Linked DNA regions of Homo sapiens. The protein of the gene in region 2 interacts with the protein of the main gene of each other region in a biochemical or structural test. Each region holds a gene or a part of one and is shown on either strand. Other genes may lie near its edges.

Region 1 (7,000 bases), on a different chromosome or scaffold from region 2:
CTTTAAGAACTTGACCAGTCTATCCCAGTTCTGGCCTCAGGCCTCAAAGGCTATTCTTGTACTAAAGTTCCCTTTAGTTTAACAAAAATAAGTCAGTTAAAGAATTACTAAATTTCAGGCTGGGCGCAGTGGCTCACGCCTGTAATCTCAGCACTTTGGGAGGCCAAGGCGGGCGGATGCTGAGGAAAAGAGATCGAGACCATCCTGGCCAACATGGCGAAACCTCGTCTCTACTAAAAATACAAAAATCTGCTGGGTGTGGTGGCGTCTGCCTCTAGTCCCAGCTACTTGGGAAGCTGAGGCAGGAGAATCACTTGAACCAGGGAGGCGAAGGTTGCAGTGAGCGGAGATCACGTCACTGCACTCCAGACTGGTGACAGAACAAGACTCTGTTTCAAAAAAAAAAAGAATTACTAAGTTTCCCAAAAGATTTTTTGAAAAAAACAAAATTTGTTCACAATCCCAACACTGCCATTTTCATTTCTTCATAGATCTTTTTTTTTTTTTTTTTTTTGAGATAGAGTTTCGCTCTTCTTGCCCAGGCTGGAGCGCAATGGCACAATCTTGGCTCACCACAACCTCCGCCTTCTGGGTTCCCGTGATTCTCCAGCCTCAGCCTCCCAAGTAGCTGGAATTATAGGCATGCGCCACCACACCCAGCTAATTTTGTATTTTTAGTAGAGACAGGGTTTCTCCATGTTGGTCAGGCTGGTCTTAAACTCCCAACCTCGGGTGATCCACTCACCTCGGCCTCCCAAAGTGCTGGGATTACAGGCATGAGCCACCGCGCCCAGCTCTTCATATATCATCTAATATCAGTTACTCGTGTACTTTACAAAGTTGTAATAGCTTGCTTTTCATTTAGTAATTCATACTTTTTCTATATTGCTTTGGAGTCCTTCTTTATCCAATTTATATAATTTTAAAATTGGTAGAAATGTTATCTAATCCGACCCCTTCAATGAACAAATGAGAGCCAGGCATGATGGCTGGCGCCTATAATCCCAGCACTTCCAGAGGCAGAAGCAGGACAATGATTTGAGGCCAGGAGTTCAAGACCAGGCTGGGGAACAAAATAAAAATAAAAATAAAAAATAAAATTATTTTAAACCAAAAAAATCCACAAATGAGCCATTAAACATCTTTCTAATCTATATCATCTAAAATAACTGGGCACTGAGGCTGGGCGTGGTGGCTCACACCTGTAATCCCAGCTGTAATCCCAGCACTTTGGGAGGCCGAGGCGGGCGGATCACGAGGTCAGGAGATTGAGACCATCCTGGCTAACACGGTGAAACCCTGTCTCTACTACAAATACAAAAAATTAGACGGGCGTGGTGGCAGGCACCTGTAGTCCCAGCTACTCGGGAGGCTGAGGCAGGAGAATGGTTTGAACCTGGGAGGCGGAGCTTGCAGTGAGCTGAGATTGCGCCACTGCACTCCAGCCTGGGTGACAGAGAGGAGACTCTGTCTCGAAAAAATAAATAAATAAAAAAGAAATAAAATAACTGGGCACTGAAACCTCCTATAGTATGTTAAGACCAGTTTATGGCTGCTTAAATTCAAAATGTGGCAAGGCCTGGTGGCTCAAGCCTGCAATACCAGCACTTTGGGGGGCTGAGGGCGGGCAGATCACCTGTGGCCAAGAGTTCAAGACCAGCCTGGCCAACATGGTAAAACCCTGTCTCTACTAAAAATACAAAAATTAGCCAGGTGTGGTGGTATAATCCCAGCTACTTGGGAGGCTGAGGCAGGAGAATCGCTTGATCCTGGGAGATGGAGGTTGCAGTGAGCTGAAATCTCACCACTGCACTCCAGCCTGGGCGACAGAGTGAGACTCCGCCTCAAAACAAAACAAAACAAAACAAACGATAACAAAAAATAATGTACTAATATGTTAAAAATAAATAATGTAAATAAGTAGCCAAAACATTAAAAAAAAAAAAACTATCTTCCAGGACGAACTGGGTTATATGGGAGTCAGTGGAGAAACATACAACCAAATGTCAACTTTTAATACTAATCAATATGGTCATATCTAAACTTATCTCCAAAATTTTAGAACAAATTTTAGAACCATAACGATATGGTTACAAGTAATTTTGTTAACAAAAAGAAGGAGAGAAGGCTTTAATTTAGGTACTAAATTCACTGTGACAAAGAATATAAAGCAATCTCAGAACAATCCCAATCTACCTATAAAGGAGCTACACCATCCATGTGTAGAAAGGTACTGGAACTGGTGTGAATGAAGGCAGATCATGTTTCCAGTGAAGTATTTTCCCCAGAAGGCTCTAAGCTAGTCAGATAGGTGCCCAAAACCTGCACAATTCTTGGTAACCCAAAGGAAATAACAGGAGTTGACAGTTACTCTCAGAGAAGGCCGTGCATATAAACGTGTCTTTTTTCTTTTTTTGAGATGGAGGCTTGCTTTGTCACCCAGGATGGAGTGCAGTGGCGCGATCTTGGCTCACTGCAAACTCTGCCTCCCAGGTTCAGGCCATTCTCCTGCCTCAGCCTCCTGAGTAGCTGCGACTACAGGTACCTGCCACCACCATGCCTGGCTAATTTTTTTTTTTTTTTGTATTTTTAGTAGAGACCAGGTTTCACCGTGTTAGCCAGGATGATCTCGATCTCCCGACCTCGTGATCCACCCGCCTCAGCCGCCCTAAAGTGCTGGGATTACAGGCATGAGCCACCGTGCCCTGCTATAAACATGTCTTGAATGAAGCTGTATTTTTTCTCCACTGGTATGGGTATATAATCATTTTAAATTGTTAAAAGATTATTTAAAAGACCCTGTTTGGCTGAGGGCAGTGGCTCATGCCTGTAATCCTAGCACTTTGGGAGGCTAAAGTGGGAGGATCCCTTGACGAAAGGCCAGTTCAAAACTAGCCTGGGCAACAAAGCAAGACTTCATCTCTATAATCAATCAATCAATCATTAGCTGGGCATCGTGGTGCATTCCTGTACGCTGAGCTATTTAGGAGGCAGAGGCAGAAGGACTGTTTCAGCCCAGGAGTTCAAGGTTGTAGTGAGCTATGATCACACCCCTCCACTCCAACCTGGGTGACAGAGTGAGACCCTGTCTCAAAAAAAAAACACACGCCAAAAAAACAAAAAAAGACCCTGTTAACGTTGCTGAAATCTTTCTATCATCACTGCATTGTGCAAAGAGGAGGAAGGCATTTCACAGAAGTGCGAAGCAGAAGTGGCAGAGGAAAGAATAAAAACAAAAAGGGAGTAAGAAAAAGTTATTTTGGAGGGCCAGGCATGGTGGCTCATGCCTGTAATCCTAGCACTTTTGGGAGGTGGGTGGATTACGAGGTCAAGAGATCAAGATCATCCTGGCCAACATGGGGAAACCCCATCTCTACTAAAAATACAAAAATTAGCCGGGCATGGTGGCACGTGCCTATAGTCCCAGCTACTCAGGAGGCTGAGGCGGGAGAATCCCTTGAACCCGGGAGGCGGGATTGCACCACTGCACTCCAGCCTGGTGACAGAACGAGACTCCATCTCAAAAAAAAAGAAAAGAAAAAGTTATTTTGTCCTTGCCTTTATTCCAAATCTTAATGCAGAAGAACAGACTGATAACCTATGTAAAGATTACAAGTACAGCTAAAGGTAGCTCTAGATAAAGGAAAGTTGAAGCCTGCGCTTCCCGGAATAGACTACACCTTAACATTCCCCCTGACATGAAGACTTCAAGCCCTGGACTAGTCTCTTAGGGATTAAGAGAGATTTTAAAACATTATATAAAACAAACAAAATCTATCTTCTTATAATTGGAGAAATTTGAATAGGAAGTGAATGATAGATAATATTAAGGTGGCTCACGTCTATAATCCTAGCCCTTTGGGAGGCTGAGGCAGGCAGATCATCTGAGGTTAGGAGTTCGAGACCAGCCTGGCCAACATGGTAAAACCTCGTATCTACTAAAAATAAAAACAATTAGCCAGGCGTGGTGGCACATGCCTGTAATCCCAGCTACTTGGGAGGCTGAGGCAGGAGAATCATTTGAAGCCAGGAGGCGGAGGTTGCAGTGAGCTGAGATCGCGCCACTGCACTCCAGCCTGGGCGACAAAAGTGAAACTCCATCTCAATTAAAAAAAAAAAAAGAAAAAGAAAAAAAGGGGCCAGGTGCGGTGGCTCACGCCTGTAATCCCAGCACTTTGGGAGGCTGAAGTGGGTGGATCACCTGAGGTCAGGAGTTCGAGACCAGCCTGGCCAACGTGGCGAAACCCCATCTCTACTAAAAATACAAAAAATTAGCCAGGCCTGGTGGCAGGCACCTGTAATCCCAGCTACTTGGGAAGCTGAGGCAAGAGAATGGCTTGAACCCAGGAGGCAGAGGTTGCAGTGAGCTGAGATCGAGTCACTGCACTCCAGCCTGGGCAACAAGAGCAAGACTCTGTCTCAAAAAAAAAAAAAAGATAGTATTAAGAAGTATTATCAACTTTCTTAGGTGTGATAATAGTATTGTTGTTACGTAAAAACCATCCCAATACTTAAGGGATACATGCAGAAGTATGAAGGGGTAAAGAGTTCCAATACCTGCAACTTTCAAATGGTTTATCCAGAAATTTACAAAAATAAAGCTTATATCTTCGCAGCTGCTGCTGGGGTCAATTATCTTCTGAATGAATAAACCTCCAACTACTCTCTGGTCTGGACCACCATCCCCTCCTTGCCCCCGCAAAAAAGTTCCTGGCCAGTGGCTCACCTCTGTAATCGCAGCACTTTGGGGGACTGGGATGAGCGGACCACCTGAACTCAGGAGTTCAAGACCAGCCTGGGCAACATGGTGAAACCCTATCTCTACAAAAAATTAAAAAATTAGCCAGGCGTGGTGGCATGTGCCTGTAGTCCCAGCTACTCAGGAGGCTGAGCTGGGAGGATTGCTTGAGCCCAGAAGCTTGAGGCTGCAGTGAGCCGTGATCATGCCATTGCACTCCAGCCTGGATGACAGAGCAAGACCCTGTCTGAAAAAATAAATAAATAAAAATTAAAAATCAGGTAGTTGCCAGGCACAGTGGCTCACATCTATAATCCCAGTACTTTGAAAGTCTGGGGTGGAAGGATCATTTGAGGCCAGGAGTTTGAGGCTGCAATGAGCTATGATTGCACCACTGCACTCCAGCCTGGGCAACAGAGTGAGACCCTGTCTCAAAAAAAAAAAAAAAAAGTTCTTAGGGTCTCTTTCCCACAATGCCCTCTCTAATTGACAAATAGTTGCTTCTTACTCCTTTATGGCAACAAATGAGAATAAAACTTTGCACTAGAACTCAAAAAGTACAGAGCTTTACAAATCACTTAACCCAAAACCAGTTAAAGGTGTTAGTTATCCATGCATTTCCATTTCAATAGGAGGCAGAAGACAGCCTGGTTTTCTGAAGTGACAGAACCTTCAGGCTGGTGAGGGCTGTGAAGGGTCCTACATTTGGAGGCACGAGAAACCTGAAGTTGAATTTCTACTTACATTCTAGCCATGATATTGTTCTCAAGCAATTGCCTTTGCCAGGCTTGTACTCTGTTAGAACTCTATCATTACTACACTCTTTCAAACAAACAAAACCTTACCAACCTGTGCAACTTACTTCCTAAACCTGTTCAACACCCTTCCCGTACCACATGACATATACCAAAAGGTAGAGACTAAAAATAATCTGCATTCATTACTACTTGAATGGCATGAATTGTTTATCAAGGTGTTTTTGTGGTTGTTGTTTGTTTTTGTTTTTTTTTGAGACAGGGTCTGTTTCTCCCAGGCCAGAGTGCAGTGGCACGAACATGGCTCACTGCAGCCTTGACCTCCCGCCTAAGCAATCCTCCCACCTCAGCCTCCTGAGTAGCTGGGACTGCAGGCACGCTTCACCATGTCCAGCTAATTTTTTTTAAATTTATTTTTTTGTAGAGATGGGGTTTCCCTATGTTGCCCAGGCTGGTCTTGAACTCCTGGGCTCAAGCGATCTGCCACCTTGGCCTCCCAAAGTGCTGGAACTACAGGTGTGAGCCACTGCGCCTGGCCTCATAAAGTTTTAAGTAATTCACAGCCAGCTTATTGCTACAATTAAGTGAATTAAGGGTGATGATTACAGAAACTCCTAAGACATTTGTGGCTTTATCCCCGATTACACCTTTTTTTCAAATAAGCTTTATGAAAATGCAGAAGTCTGAAAGAAGGTAGTAGAACAAAGATAATTTAGCAAATATGCCAATAGAAAGCATTTCTTAGACAATTCCTGTTAAAACATCATAACAGTTTCATAAACTGTTAAAAACTCCTTTAAAAATTTTATTTCCTTATAATTGGCAAAACATCTGTACTTAATTCCTAATCAACTGTCCACTACAAAAAGAAGTATAAAATGCTGTCACCTCCCCAATGATATAGCCCTACACATAGTTTTTATAACTAGTACATGCAAATGGTATTTTCCCAATAAGACGATTGTTAACTATGGTTCAAAATAATAACACTCACATGAAGTTTATTATACCAGACACTATTCTAAGTAGTTTGCATAATTCATCTCATGTAATTGTCGTAAGAATCCTATAAAGTAGGCACTATTATTATTCTAATTTTACAGATGATGAAACTGAGGATCACAGGTAATTCTTATCCAGAATTACTTTTCCAAACACTTACTGTTATTCATTAAATATCAAATACCAGCTAATCTAGTCATGTAGAAATTCTAATCTTTTTAAATTTGCAAAAAATATGGTTAAATATAATCATCAAATTCCAATGCACAGCTTTTGCACTGAATATAAATTTAGTATTCCTCAATTATGTTACATTTTGTACTGGCAAAGGAAGTAGTAAAATGTCTTATAATTGTTCTTAAAGTGCTTCTGATAGATAGTTTTCCAAATTCTTCATAGAAGAAAAGGCAGATGAAAATGGGACAAATTCCACCTCTCTACCCACTCCAGATATCCGTTTTTATTCTTCAAAATCTTTTGCATCATACCAAATTACTCCTTGAAA
Region 2 (7,614 bases):
TATGGTAACCTAGGCCTTTACTGCTTTTTCCCCTTCTAGAAATGTCCCTTCCTTTATACTTTCATCCTCAGGGGACCTCACCTTTCTCTGACAACCCTTATCCATAGCCATTATTTGAACCTCAGCTAATGCTACCCAGTATCTTTTTATATGTAAGAAAGCTGTAAAAATCAGGGTCTTTGGAGTCAAGTTGCTTGGATTCAAAGCTTAGTTCTGTGATCTTAGGGCAAATAACTTCATGTCTCTGACTCAGTTTTCTCATCAGTGAAATGGGAGTAAAAACGATAATGATCTCATAAGATTATTGTGACCATTAAAAAAGACAATCTACAGGCGGGGCGCGGTGGCTCATGCCTGTAATCCCAGCACTTTGGGAGGCCAAAGTGGGCAGATCACCTGAGGTCAGGAGTTCTGGATCAGCCTGGCCAGCACGGCGAAACCCTGTCTCTACTAAAAATACAAAAATTAGCTGGGCATGGTGGCGGGTGCCGGTAGTCCCAGCTACTTGGGAGACTGAGGCAGGAGAATCACTTGAACCTGGGAGGCAGAGGTTGCAGTGAGCCGAGATCATGCCACTGTACTCCAGCCTGGGTGACAGAGTGAGACTCTGTCTCAAAAAAAAAAAAAAAAAAAAAAAAAAAAGACAATCTACTCAAAAGCACTTAGCACACTACTTTACAGTAAGCACTCAATAAATGTTACCTATTATAATGTCCTCACTCCTTAACTAGACCAGAATGTATATTATACCTCCTAGGAGCTGTGTAGACTTCCTAGCCCAATGTGCTTTTCATTATATGGGCTCACTCAGGACTGCGTAGTTTTTAAAACTTTGGCTTTAGCAATCAGAAGATCTCCAGGTCTTCTTCCAGCCTTAGCACATTCTATGTGATCTCAGGCAAATTATTTAACTTACTTGAACTTCAATTTCTTCTTTTGTAATATAGGAAAAATACCCAGCATCAAGGGTGAGGATAAAATGATATAAAGTATGCAAATGTGCCTAGCATAATGTCAGACACATAGTATGTTAGACACACACCAAATGTTAATTAAATAGAACAGTTCTGTCTGTAGGAGGGGAGAAGAAAAGCGTTTCTAGCACTATAGCCACTCCTACTTTTGTCCTCTAAAATAAACTCTTTGGCTCTCCTTTAAGTCCTCAGACCACAAGCGAACACATCTCTCTCTACATAATCCCTGGGGTGTTGGGGAAGGAGACCTCTAAATTAGCCTCTGTGAGACCCTATGCCAAGACAGTGCCCTTTGGAAGCTGTACCCAAAGGGCCTAGAACAGTGCCTGGCACATAGTGAGCTCTATGTAAATATTTGTTTAATAAAAGGGAAAAAGTCTCCTAGCAATGAAGCTGGGGGAAGGTGTTCCTGAATGCTCTGCCTTTTCTCTTGTTCGAGGATTTTCTTTGACTTGTGAAAAGGAGGCTCTCTTCTCTTACTTCCATAGGAAATGTCATCCAAACTAGAAAAAGAACCATGATTTATGGGGAAAACTACAGTTTTTGCTATAAACCCTAAGACAGGAACTCTTCTGCAACTCACAGACTTAGCAAACCCAATCGTTGGCTCCAAACCTGAGGCTCTTTCTACTCTTACTCTCATTGCTGCTGGACCTCTAAGGTAAACATGGTCATAGATCTCTCCATACTTGTCCCTACTTTGGTCTCCCACTTCTCTCCTTCGGGGACCCTATTTCATCTTCATCTCTTCATGCATTAACCCCAGCCCCGAGATCCAAGCCCCATCACAGAACCACGCTCCCGGAAGGCATATTGAGTTCCACTTTCCATTATTAATCTCAGGCTGCCACAGCAGAGTGGAGAGTTCTGTTCCTGCCCAGCCCCCTCACCCCCTAGCAGTGTCCATGTGGGAGAAGAGGGGCAAATTCTAGGCTCTGGGTGATTCCTCCATGAAGGCTGTATTGGTGAGACTGGAGTACAGGCTGTGCCAGCATCCATGGGGAGAGAGTAGCAACGCTCAGCTATAATTAGTCACCCCCACAGCAGAGCCAGCACAACAGGGAGAAGGAGGAGGGTCTCTGGTGGGAGGAGGGACCACTGGCTGCTCAGAAGGGAGGAGGAAGGAGCAGATGCAAGGAAAAGCAGCTCTATTCAGGGAAAAAGAAGTCTGAAGCACAGCCTTCAATGCTGTCAGGACTGAAGAGGTCGGATGTATGAAAGCATCTAGGGTAGACAGCACACAGGAAGGCCCCGATACACGGAAGTTTCTTATACCCTGAAGTGAGAAGAATGTGGACCTGAACGTGGGTTGGGGGGGTACCCATACACAGGCACAAGAAGGCAGCAGCTTTAAGTGGGGAGCAGGGGAGAGCTGGAGGAAAAGTGGCAGTGTAGTTTCCCAAGGGAATGGACACTCGGACATGGTCTCCAGGGAAGGCTGCTTTTTCAGAACCAGGATGCCTGTGTTCTTGGGAGAACACCCTCCCCTCAATGTCCCCACACATCCTCACCAGCGACAGAGGTTTCTGGGAGGCTAGGGATTGGTGGGGGAGAGACCAGACTGAAGAGGGCCTACTGCAAGGGGAAGAGGGGAGCGGAGAGGGCAAAGGAGCCTACAGATGGAGTTGGGGAGAGCGGGGGACAGCCCTTCAGAAAGGCAAATCCTCAGAGCTCCCAGGGGAGAAGACAGGGACCTGGGACCCACAAGAAGCGATGCAGGAACTGGGCGAGAGCCCGGATTTGTGGAATCCAAACCTAAGTCCCAGCACCGTGCAAGAAGCCAGCCCCAATCTGAGGACCGAGGAGGTGGGGGTGTTGGGGGCGGGTCCGCCGCTGGCGGTCGGCCTGGCGCACGCACACACGCACTCACCGATTTTGGCCAGACTGGCCACCAGGATCCACAGGGCCACCAGGTAGGGCGCCTCCACCTCGTGCCACTGCCAGCGGAAGAGCTCTAAGCCTGGGGGAGGCTCGCCCGGGGACTCTGGCTTCTGGGTGGGCTCTTCGGCCGCCCCCGCCAGGGGCAGCGCGAGCAGGGACAGGGCGGCGCGCAGCATCCTGCCGCCTGCCCAGCCGCCCTCCCGGCACCGCACGGCCGCCGGCCCCGCGTCGCCGCCGCCACCTACCGGGCGCCCCCGCGTCACAGGCACGTGGGGCCCGCTCCCCCCAATCCCGGCTCCGATACCCCCAAGCCAGGTCCAGGCTCCGAGACCCTGCCTCGGACTCTCGTAGTCGGGGACTCTCTCCTCTTTCCTCCCTAAATCAGTCCCAGCTCCGGAAATTCCCCAGTGCAGCTCTCCCCCAAGTTCCACAACCTACTCCTTCGAGTCCGCGCCCCCAAACCTCCCCAAAACCGCCCCCACCAGATCCAGAGCGGTGCGCGGCCACGGCCCCCCTGGGGCAGCCCGCAGCGGGAAGGGCGGGGGTCTGCGGGGGGCGCGGTCAGGACGGGAGGGGCACGGCTCCTCCTCGGCCAGCGCTGCTGTGCGGCGAGCAGCACCCCCCTGGGACCAAGGCGCGGCCGGGTGCAAAACGCAGGGGACCGTGCTTGGCCGCCCTCCGCCCACGTTGCCAAGCCCAGGACCCCCTGCCGGCCCCCACCCGGACCTGAGCTGCGCACGCGCACTGGACGCTCCCCAAAGCAGTGACGGACAACGCTGCCCCCAACGTCCCAGAAACCCTAAGGCCCAGACTGGCCCAGCTCGTGCCAGGCGAAGAGGGAGGCTGTTCTTCATCTCCCAAACCAAGGGGCACCTGGCCCTCCCTTTCAGTCACACTACAGAGAACTGTCTCATCTCTTTGATGAAGCTGACAGGAACCTATGGAAAACCCAGCCTACTGATTCCCTTCAAACTAGGCGAGATGCACCCAACTTTTTCCAAATCTGAGGGGCATTCGGCTCATAGCGCCCCAAACAGAGGAGGACCGTCTCCACTTTTCATTCAGGCTGAGGGGCACCCATCCCACTTTTTCTCCAAAACTGAGGGGAACGTGTTCTATCTGCCCCCTCAAACTGACTCCTCCCAATCTTTTCCCAGAAAACTGAAGGGCATCCTTCCCTCTTCCTCCCACAACTAAAGGGAACTGATCCCACCTCTTCCTTCAAACTGGGTGGAATTTATTCTCACTTCTTGCTCCAAATTGAAGGGACCCCCTCTCACTGCTTTCCCTAAATGAGGAAACCACAGGGACTCACCCCTCAAATGGAAGGAATGAGGGCTATCTTGTCCCTCAACTGAGAGAGACCTGGCCGGCCACTATCTAAAGAAACTTCTGCCCCATCTGCCCTAACACCCCTCAAAGAGAACGCAGCCTCACTATCCCCAGACCAAAGAAAGCCTCCCCGCCTTCTGCGCGTTCTCGAAGGTGGGGCGCGAGCTCGGTTTTTCCCGCCCTCCTAGCCAGTGAACTAACGGGATTCCCATTGGGCCCTGTGAGTGGCTAGCGGCGGCCCCGCCTCCGGCAGTGGTTACCTCCTGGCGCGCACTCGGGGACTAATCTTGGCTCCACCCCCTTCCTCGGCCCCGCCTCCGTCTGGCCCCGCCCCTCCAGCCGCGTCCGGTCCGGCCGGGCCCGAACCGCGGAGCTACAGTGTGCTTTGAGTAGAAGCTGCACTGGGGCCGGGACTCGGAGGCGCGCTGCGTGAGCCGGCCGCAGAGCCATGGCGGGCGGGGAAGACCGCGGGGACGGAGAGCCGGTATCAGTGGTGACCGTGAGGGTGCAGTACCTGGAAGACACCGACCCCTTCGCATGTGCCAACTTTCCGGAGCCGCGCCGGGCCCCCACCTGCAGCCTGGACGGGGCGCTGCCCTTGGGCGCGCAGATACCCGCGGTGCACCGCCTGCTGGGAGCGCCGCTCAAGGTGAGGGAGGCCGGAGAAAGGTTGGGGCGATCGGGGGTTCAGGGTGGGCGCCATGAAAACTGGTGGGAGGTGCTCCGCGGGAAGAGGCTGGAGCGAGTGTTCTTCTCCGGAAAAGTCTTGGGCTGGGGTCCCAGGGTCCACTCTGCCCCGCCTGCGGGGGAGTCCCCTCTCAAGTTGAGGGGAAACTGAAGAGGGGTGCCAGGAACTTGGCTCCGCCATTCTGACTGCCCTTCGAATTAGGCGCACCTGGGGAGGTGCTCGAGTTCCACTCGCCGTCGGTCTGCCAGGGTGGCTTCCCTGGTCAGAGTGACGGTAGCCGCTTGGGCTGTAGCGGACCCTGGAGGCGGAGCTGGGGAGGGACCAGCTTCCACCTGCTTCAGGTGAGGTGGGGGCGGGACCACGAGGAGGGGCGGGCCCGAGGCGGACTACTAGAGGTGGCAGAGGTTTCCTGCGGTGTCAGGAAGCTGGATTGGGGCTTGACCCTGTAGGTCAATGGGAGTATGGGAGTGCCGGCCGAGGAGAGACTTCACGGGGTGAGGGGAGTCCCCGCGAAGCGGTCTGGCCCGGGATCCGCAGAGCGCAGGAGGCTGCACGGGTGTAAAAGCCCTTTGAGTCACCGCTCCCGCCCCCACCCCCGGACACTCGCCGCCCATCGGCCCGCGCCTGAAAGTGAGAGGGAGGGCCGGACTAATTTTAAACAGCCGGCCTGCCCTACTTTGCTGCCGCCCCGAAGCGGACTTGTGCACAGTGCGGAAAGAGGCCCTTTTCCAGATGGCCAGCCTACCTCCTCTCCCCTCCCTCTCGCCGCCGTCAGCCCCCCGCAGGCAGCCCTTTCCGGCGCGCTGTTTCCGGGCCAGGACTCTGGGAGGCGCACTACCACCTCCACAAGCTCCCCACCAGCCCGGCCGCCTCCAGTGCTGGAGAAGAGGAGAGAGAGTCGGGGTGGGTGCCCTCCCCTGCTCCCAGCCTCAGCTGGGCGGCGAGTTGCGTAAACTTGCCCCTTGGGCCTGGGGTCTTCCCTGGAATGTGCCCCGGGCCCCCAGCCCGCATTCCTCGCGCTGCGGCCAGCCCCGCCTCTGAGCGCTGGCGGGAGGGGTGGTGAGACTATTGGCCTGGAGAGTGGCACGTGTCCAGGCCAGAACCCCGGCTTCAAGGCCATGGCTGGAAGGATGCAGGACACTGCTCACCGCCAGTTTTGACTCAGCCCCCGCTTCTCTTGCCCTATTCAGAGGGGCAAATTGAGGTGTGCCTGGAAGAAGCGTGTGCAGCTGGAGGCCACCTCCCATTCAGGATGGGGGCTGGGAAGACAGGAGTGCTGAACTAAGACTGGTTCCCGCTTCCAGGCTCCTAAAGTCCGGATCCTGAAATAAGGGTGGGGCACTAGAGAATATATTGTATTCCTCTCATCCTGCAACTCAAGGATTGGACCTAGCCCTGACACCACCCCCCCGATTTTTTTTTTTTTAAGACGGATTCTGGCTCTGTCTCCCAGGCTGGAGTACAGTGGGGCTATCTTGGCTCACTGCAACCTCCACCTCCCGGGTTCTAGCAATTCTCGTGCCTCAGCCTTCCAAATAGCTGGGATTACAGGTGTGCGCCACCATACTCAGGTAATTTTTGTATTTTTAGTAGGGACAGGGTTTCTCCGTGTTGGCCAGCCTGGTCTCAAACTCCTGACCTCAGGTGATCTGCCTGCCTAAGCCTCCCAAAGTGCTGGGATTAAGGCTTGAGCCACCATGCCCAGCCCCTTGACACACCTCTTCCCAGCTGGGGGCAAGCCTGGGAAGTCAGCTGCAAGAAAGAGGCTCAGAACCACTCCTTCTATCTCCCTCTCATGGGACCCGTGTCCCCACCCAACCCTACCAGGTGCTCTGCCCTGTGTTCCCTGCTCCTTAGCTGAGGACACTACTGAGCTCCGGTGAAGAATATAAGTTCCTCATCCCCAATGCAGTCCTTCCTGGTCTCCCCGATTTCATGTTCTCCCACCTGGAGTACCTGAGGACTGCCTTCCCTCCCCCACAGGGATATGGAGGTGGCACACTAGGTTACCACAATGCCAGAAGCCAGGATTCCCTGGGGCTAGCAACTCTGCCAGGAATGGTCAGATGCACTGTGATGTGCTCAACCCAAATATAAACTATGACCACAGCCCCAGAATAGAAGGCTGGAGGAAGAGGGGCTGAGAATAGGGCAGAGACAGGGACATCAGAGAGCTGAGCAAGGGGGAGCAGGGCCCCTCCTTGCAGGAAATGTCAACAGCTGGTTCCTCCCGTAGTCCTATAAGTGGGTGCCCCAGAGTCACAGACATGACTCAGGCCTGTCTTGCTGGCCCTCTAGAGGGAAGAGGTGGCCCAGAAACCAGGGCATCCCTGTCCCAAGCTGTAGGGCAGAAATAAGAGGAAGGGGTTCTTTACTCATTGCTTCGTCCTATGTACAGTTGTCCAGCAGAGGACAGGACACAGCCAAGTGGCCTCTGTCCTCCTCTGGGTACTGGCCCCGGGTACTGGCCCTGATCATCCCAGCAGATGACCCCCCTCCCTGGGGATGTACAGAGGCCAGCCTGCTTTCTCCCTGGGACTCCACCCACACACCCCATTGGGCCGAGCCTAGCCCCTAGAGTTCCCCTGGGGGCTTCCTTTTTAAAGAGCTTTCAGATCTCAGAAAGCCTTGCTCATTTCCTCCTAGACTAGGAGGAAGCTCCTGGCCACAGCCTCTGACTCATCTCCTGGCCCTGGTTGGTGGAAGGGAGCTTGACAGTGTCTTGGGCCGGGCCTAGTG

The links.
Region 1: the proteins of SLC9A5 (region 2) and CHP1 form a complex in vitro, tested with the Homo sapiens proteins (one study listed by BioGRID).

What each region holds. Positions count from the first base shown.
Region 1 is NC_000015.10:41,234,268-41,241,267, reverse strand, and holds part of CHP1 (calcineurin B homologous protein 1), read right to left. Parts: intron 1-7,000. UniProt on the Homo sapiens protein: Calcium-binding protein involved in different processes such as regulation of vesicular trafficking, plasma membrane Na(+)/H(+) exchanger and gene transcription. Involved in the constitutive exocytic membrane traffic.
Region 2 is NC_000016.10:67,244,432-67,252,045, reverse strand, and holds the start of SLC9A5 (sodium/hydrogen exchanger 5 isoform 1 precursor), read right to left. Parts: upstream 3,068-7,614; 5' UTR 3,032-3,067; coding exon 2,845-3,031; intron 1-2,844. Other genes in the region: FHOD1 (FH1/FH2 domain-containing protein 1), read left to right, coding at 4,636-4,836. UniProt on the Homo sapiens protein: Plasma membrane Na(+)/H(+) antiporter. Mediates the electroneutral exchange of intracellular H(+) ions for extracellular Na(+) in 1:1 stoichiometry, thus regulating intracellular pH homeostasis, in particular in neural tissues.